Regions from separate parts of the Homo sapiens genome. Here region 1 is linked to region 2. The links come from fine-mapping of genetic effects on gene expression. Tissue or cell type: whole blood. Region 2 holds a variant in brackets; the other region holds the start of a gene. All regions are shown on one strand. Distances are between the middles of the regions.

Region 1 (2,766 bases), 210 kb after region 2:
AGCTATATCCCTAGCTTTTAACTTAAAAGGTTCAAGAAAATACTACACCTTGGTTTTTAAAACACCTGAAAACACTTTAAGGTCAAAGACTGTTTTCGTGAAGCGAGCGAGCATGGCACATGCAGCACAGGCAGAATTCACAATCGCAACCAGTGCTGAATCCCTGGCTAGTTGGTTTCATTTTGTTAGACTTTTGAGCAAGACTTTAAGACAGTGAGTCTATTCTGTAACATAAATACCACACTGTGTCTTGTTTTCCAACAGGGGAAGGCAATTTTTTTAATTTCATAAATTTGTATTTAGCTAAAAGAGGTTGAATACCAAATTCCATCTCCCCCAAGTCATCTCCTCGCAAGTAGAGTAACCTTGATGTAGTTCCTCCCCCATTTCATCTGTCTTTCACCGCTCACATCTAAGCTAATTCAACAATGGGGAGTATTTCTCGAGTTTGGACTTAGAAATAAGACTATATGAAAGTCTACTTATAAGACTTGCAAAATGGTCTTTATAAAATATCTGTTAAGTCTATAAGGCTATTTGACTAAGACGTGAAAATAGACTCGAAGTATTTGTTGTAAACTACAGCATTATAACTTTTTTAGGTAACTAAAATTTTAAGTCAATAAAAGGCAAACGTTAAGCAAACCGCTTGACGTAACTAAGCATCGCAAAACTGTGATCCAATAATCTAGGGTCAATATTAAAAATCAAAAGTTTCTAGACCGAGCCTGAAGAAGTCTTAATTCTAGACAATGGCAAGGAAGGTGAGGGGCAGAAAAAAACCCAGAAACACTCCCAAAGCTCTGGAGTTACATTTTCAAGTCAGCAAAATGAGAGTTGGATTCAGAACTCTTGTGTAGGCATAATCTGTGAGATGTTTATAGTTTCAATGTACCATCAAAGTTAATGGATTAAAACTTTTTCAACTTGGAGGGGAGGAGTAGTTGACCTTCTCACATTTGTAAATTACCTCCCCTTTGGGGCTCAAGATTTTCTGCTGAGACTCTGAGCAAAAGCTGCTTGTGACGTTTGCCCGGGGAAGGTCTCGGAGGCGGGAAAAGGCTAGGTAGCGAAAGAATCCCTGGGGGTTCTGGGATGGGGCGAGAGGCGTGAGTTCCCAGTTGGGAAGGAGGAGGCGGCGACTTGGGGACTCGGTAACCTGTCCGGGCAGTGAGGCGAGCACGGGGAGGGGAGGCGAGAAAAGGGGAGGGTGGAGCAAAAGCTCGTGGGTGTAGGCCTTGGGCCGGGGAGAGGGAGGAAGCGCGGAGGGAGGCGAAGACGCTTGGGGCCGGGCACTCACCCGCCGGGCGCTCGGGCTGAATGGGCCGCCACCGCAGTGCTCGCTCGCTCAGCACCACGTCACAACTGTCCCTCCCGATCTCGAAGATGCCCCGGAGCAGAATCCGCTCGGCCGCCGCCTCCGTCTGCTGCGGGGACGTTAACAGCGCCGGAGGCACAGCGGCAGCCTCCGGGGGCGCCTCTTCCTCCCGGCCGCCCTCCAGGGCACTCACCCGGTTCCTGCGCCTCCTCCAGGGCATGGCGGAGTCGCAGGCTGGGCCCGAGCCAGGGGTCCGGGGAGGCCTTTGGAGAAGGAGGTGGAGGGCGCGGCAGCCCCAGCTCTAGCCGCGTCCAGCGCTGCCACAGCAACGGCGCGCAGGGCAGGGACCCAGGAGGGAGGCGGGGCCGCGCCTGACCCAGTCCAGCACCCTGGCCTGCCAGCCTCGCCGCTTCGCCACTCACCACAAAAAGACCCAGCTGCAAGAGGAAGAATAAGTGGCTCCCTCCGCCTAGCTTCTCCTGTAAAGTACGATTTCGTACTTTTCGTTACCCTCGAGTTAAACCAGCCCTCCTCAATCTTAAACTTGCATATAATCGCTTGGGCATCTTGTTCAAATGGAGATTCTTATTGCATAGGTGTGGGACTGGCCCCCAGATACCACATATCTAAGAAAATACTAGGTGATGGATCCCACTGGCCAAGGAACACACTTAGAGTTGCAAGGGTGGAAGCCTCTGTTTTTCCACCTCCTTTCCAGAGGGTTCCCTGGAGAGCACAGGTGACGCTTTACAACCCTGTTTCAGAGTAGTAGCGCACTTCCCAAAACCCCTGAGGGGAAGCTAGAGATAAGGCCCTGGTTTGCATAGACAAATTTGCATCTGACAAATTCAGTATTAAAGGTAAGTGCCTCCAGGTGTAAGTATTTAGGGTCCTACTTTCCCCCAAGGTAGCGCCTCTGCAGTCTTGTCTTTGCCTGGATCTTGCACTCCCTTGAGGGAGATTACAAGCAGCAGGGCTTCACTTTCACGCACTGCCATAAAGAAGTGTCACCTGGAAAAGGAGAAGAGCCCTGGGGGGGTTCACCCTTTTCTCCTGATAACTGAGATTTCTAAAATCAGCTGCTCATTAATTTTGATAACACAGAGAGTCTGGAGGCTAGTGATTCTCAATTGTGGTTGCACATTAAAGTTACATAGGGAACTTTTGAAAACCCAAATGTCCAGGCCACGCTCAAGACAACTAAGCTGGAATCTCTGGAGGCGAGACCCAGACTTCCGGATTTTTAAAAGTTCCCAGGTAATTCCAATGTTCAGCCAAGGCTGATAATGGCTGCTCTAAGCAGGGTGATAAAACAGGGAGCTGAGTACTTGTAATGGGGAAGCAGTCAGGAAGAAAGTGAGTCCCTGGGAAGAGGAGCAGAGTGGGAAGTAAAGCAGAAGGCTTTTTTTTTTTTTAAACAAGATCATTATCATCATATTGAAAAGAAG
Region 2 (2,766 bases):
ACCTCAGACTTATCTCTAGAACCCAGCGAGCACTATCTAAACACACTCTCCATCTCCCCCAACACCATGCACCCCTCCACCCCACCCTGTTCTTCCCCATTCCAACTCTTCCATCTGGTTGCTTTATGTTTTGTTTTTCATGATATTACCAGTGTCTCTGTCACCAGGTCTAAAAATGCCGGTCATATTTTACTTCCTTTTAGTACCAACACCACACAATACACATCAGGTTTTTTCCCCAATGCCTTACGAGTTCTTTCATTTTCCCTGCCCTGCTCTTTATGTAAGTTTGGGTCTTGAAACTGCCTTTATGCCTACACCATTTATCAGCAACCAACTGTCTTTTGTCTCCTCATTGTATATGATATTTAATTTGACTACATTATATTATCTAAGGTATATCATATCTTCCTTTGTAAATTATAAACTGAGATTAGGACTCACTTTTTATACAGTTTCATATCTGCCAAAGGACTTAGCGTATTGTTTTGCATGTAATAATTAATGAACATAAACCTATACATTTCCAGCTTATGACATTAATGATGTAAAAAGCCAAAATCATGTAAAGGCCATTTAAAAAATACAGAGCACCTGCTACTTGCCAGGTAGCATATAAAGTGCTAGAGATATGGTGGTAAACAACAGGAGCAAAACAAAGGATGTTTTCTACTCTCAAATTCTAGTGAGAAAGATATAATGAAAAAATATATGATTATAAATTAAAGAGTTCTGGAGATAATGAACAGGATTGTCTGGCAGATAATATTATAGTGACCTATTTTAAATTGGATGGGCAGAAAGTCCTCTGTGAGGACATCTTTAAGCTGAGATGGAAGAAAGAGAAAGAGGAATTATGTGAAAAGTCAGAGGCTATGTGTCCGAGAAGAGGTAATAATATGGTAAAGACCTTGAGGATAAAAGAAACCTTGATGCACTTAAGGAAATTAAGAAAGGCCAATATGACAAAAGCCAAGTGATCCAGGGGGAGTGACCAATGCTAAGGCTGGTGCTGTAGTCAGAAGCCAGATCATAGGGTCCTTTTAGGCCACGTTGAGTGTGGTTTGTACTACAAGAAAGCGATGGAAAACTATTTAAAGGATTTAAGCAAAGGAGTAGTTGCCTGATTCATTTAGAATCTTGAAAGTTCACTTTAGCTTCTGTGCAGAAATTTGATGAGGTGGGGGAATGACAAAGGGAGACCACGTAGCAGATTCTTAAATAGCCCAGATGAAATTATCTTGTGAAATGGTAGTAGCTGTGCAAAAGAAGATTCACATAAGATGGGCTTGAGATATATTTTAGAGGTCAAATTGATAGGACCTTGTGACTGATGGATTCTTTGTTTAAGTTAGAGGGAGGTATTACTTTCCAAATTTCTGGCTTGAACAACTGGTCAGATAGAGTGCCCAGTTGTTTTGAAAAGAAAGAGATTGGGTGGAAGAATAGTTTAGATGAGAAGTCAGGGAACCAGAACTCAGTGTTAGGTATGTTA[C/T]GCGCACAATGCCCACTATACATCCAAGTGGAGATGTCTGGTAGGCAGTAGAACAAATGAACCCGGAACTCTGAAGAAAGGTCAAGGCTGGAGACATAAACTGGAGACTCATGATATTTGTTTATTTATTTCATGTCAAACAATTGAGGGTATATTTAAATAACTCATGAAATAGCTGATTGATTAACAGATATTGCAACATGTATATAAAAAAATCAAACTTTTTTTTATTATTATACTTTACGTTCTAGGGTACATATGCACAACATGCAGGTTTGTTACATATGTACACATGTACCATGTTGGTGTGCTGCATCCATTAACTCATCATTTACATTAGGTATATCTCCTAATGCTCCTTCCCACCTCCCTGCACCCCATGACAGGCCCCGGTGTGTGATGCTCCCCTCTCTGTGTCCAAGTGTTCTCATTGTTCAATTCCCACCTATGAGTAGGAACATGTGGTGTTTGGTTTTTTGTCCTTGTGATAGTTTGCTGAGAATGATGATTTCCAGCTTCATCCATGTCCCTATAAAGGACATGAACTCATCCTTTTTTATGGCTGCATAGTATTCCGTGGTGTATATGTGCCACATTTTTTTAATCCAGTCTATCACTGATGGACATTTGGGTTGGTTCCAAGTCTTTGCTATTGTGAATAGTGCCGCAATAAACATACGTGTGCATGTGTCTTTATAGCAGCATGATTTATAGTCCTTTGGGCATATACCCAGTAATGGGATGGCTGGGTCAAATGGTATTTCTAGTTCTAGATCCTTGAGGAATTGCCACACTGTCTTCCACAATGGTTGAACCAGTTTACAGTCCCACCAACAGTGTAAAAGTGTTCCTATTTCTCCACATCCTCTCCAGCACCTGTTGTTTCCTGACTTTTTAATGATTGCCATTCTAATTGGTGTGAGATGGTATCTCATTGTGGTGTTGATTTGCATTTCTTTAATGGCCAGTGATGATGAGCATTTTTTCATCTGTCTTTTGGCTGCATAGATGTCTTCTTTTGAGAAGTGTCTGTTCATATCCTTTGCCCACTTGTTGATGGGGTTGTTTTTTTCTTGTAAATTTGTTTGAGTTCTTTGTAGATTCTGGATATTAGCCCTTTGTCAGATGAGTAGATTGCAAAAATTTTCTCCCATTCTGTAGGTTGCCTGTTCACTCTGATGGTAGTTTCTTTTGCTGTGCAGAAGCTCTTTAGTTTAATTAGATCCCATTTATCAATTTTGGCTTTTGTTGCCATTGCTTTTGGTGTTTTA

Evidence for each region. PIP is the estimated chance that this variant, and not a neighbour inherited with it, causes the effect. A credible set is the group of variants that fine-mapping cannot tell apart.
Region 1: CERKL starts here. The variant in region 2 is the best candidate, but not a certain one, in a credible set for the expression of CERKL in whole blood (INTERVAL, PIP 0.81).

What each region holds. Positions count from the first base shown.
Region 1 is chr2:181,655,469-181,658,234 of GRCh38, forward strand. It overlaps CERKL (CERK like autophagy regulator), which reads right to left and starts at 1,637. Exons shown (of 13, transcript NM_201548.5): 1 at 1,301-1,637. The coding sequence starts at 1,538. RefSeq lists silencers at 1,275-1,364, 1,495-1,724.
Region 2 is chr2:181,447,024-181,449,789 of GRCh38, forward strand. No RefSeq gene overlaps it. Among named protein-coding and RNA genes, the nearest start is that of ITGA4, 9.0 kb to the right of the region's middle. The variant C/T (reference allele first, on the strand shown) is at 1,496.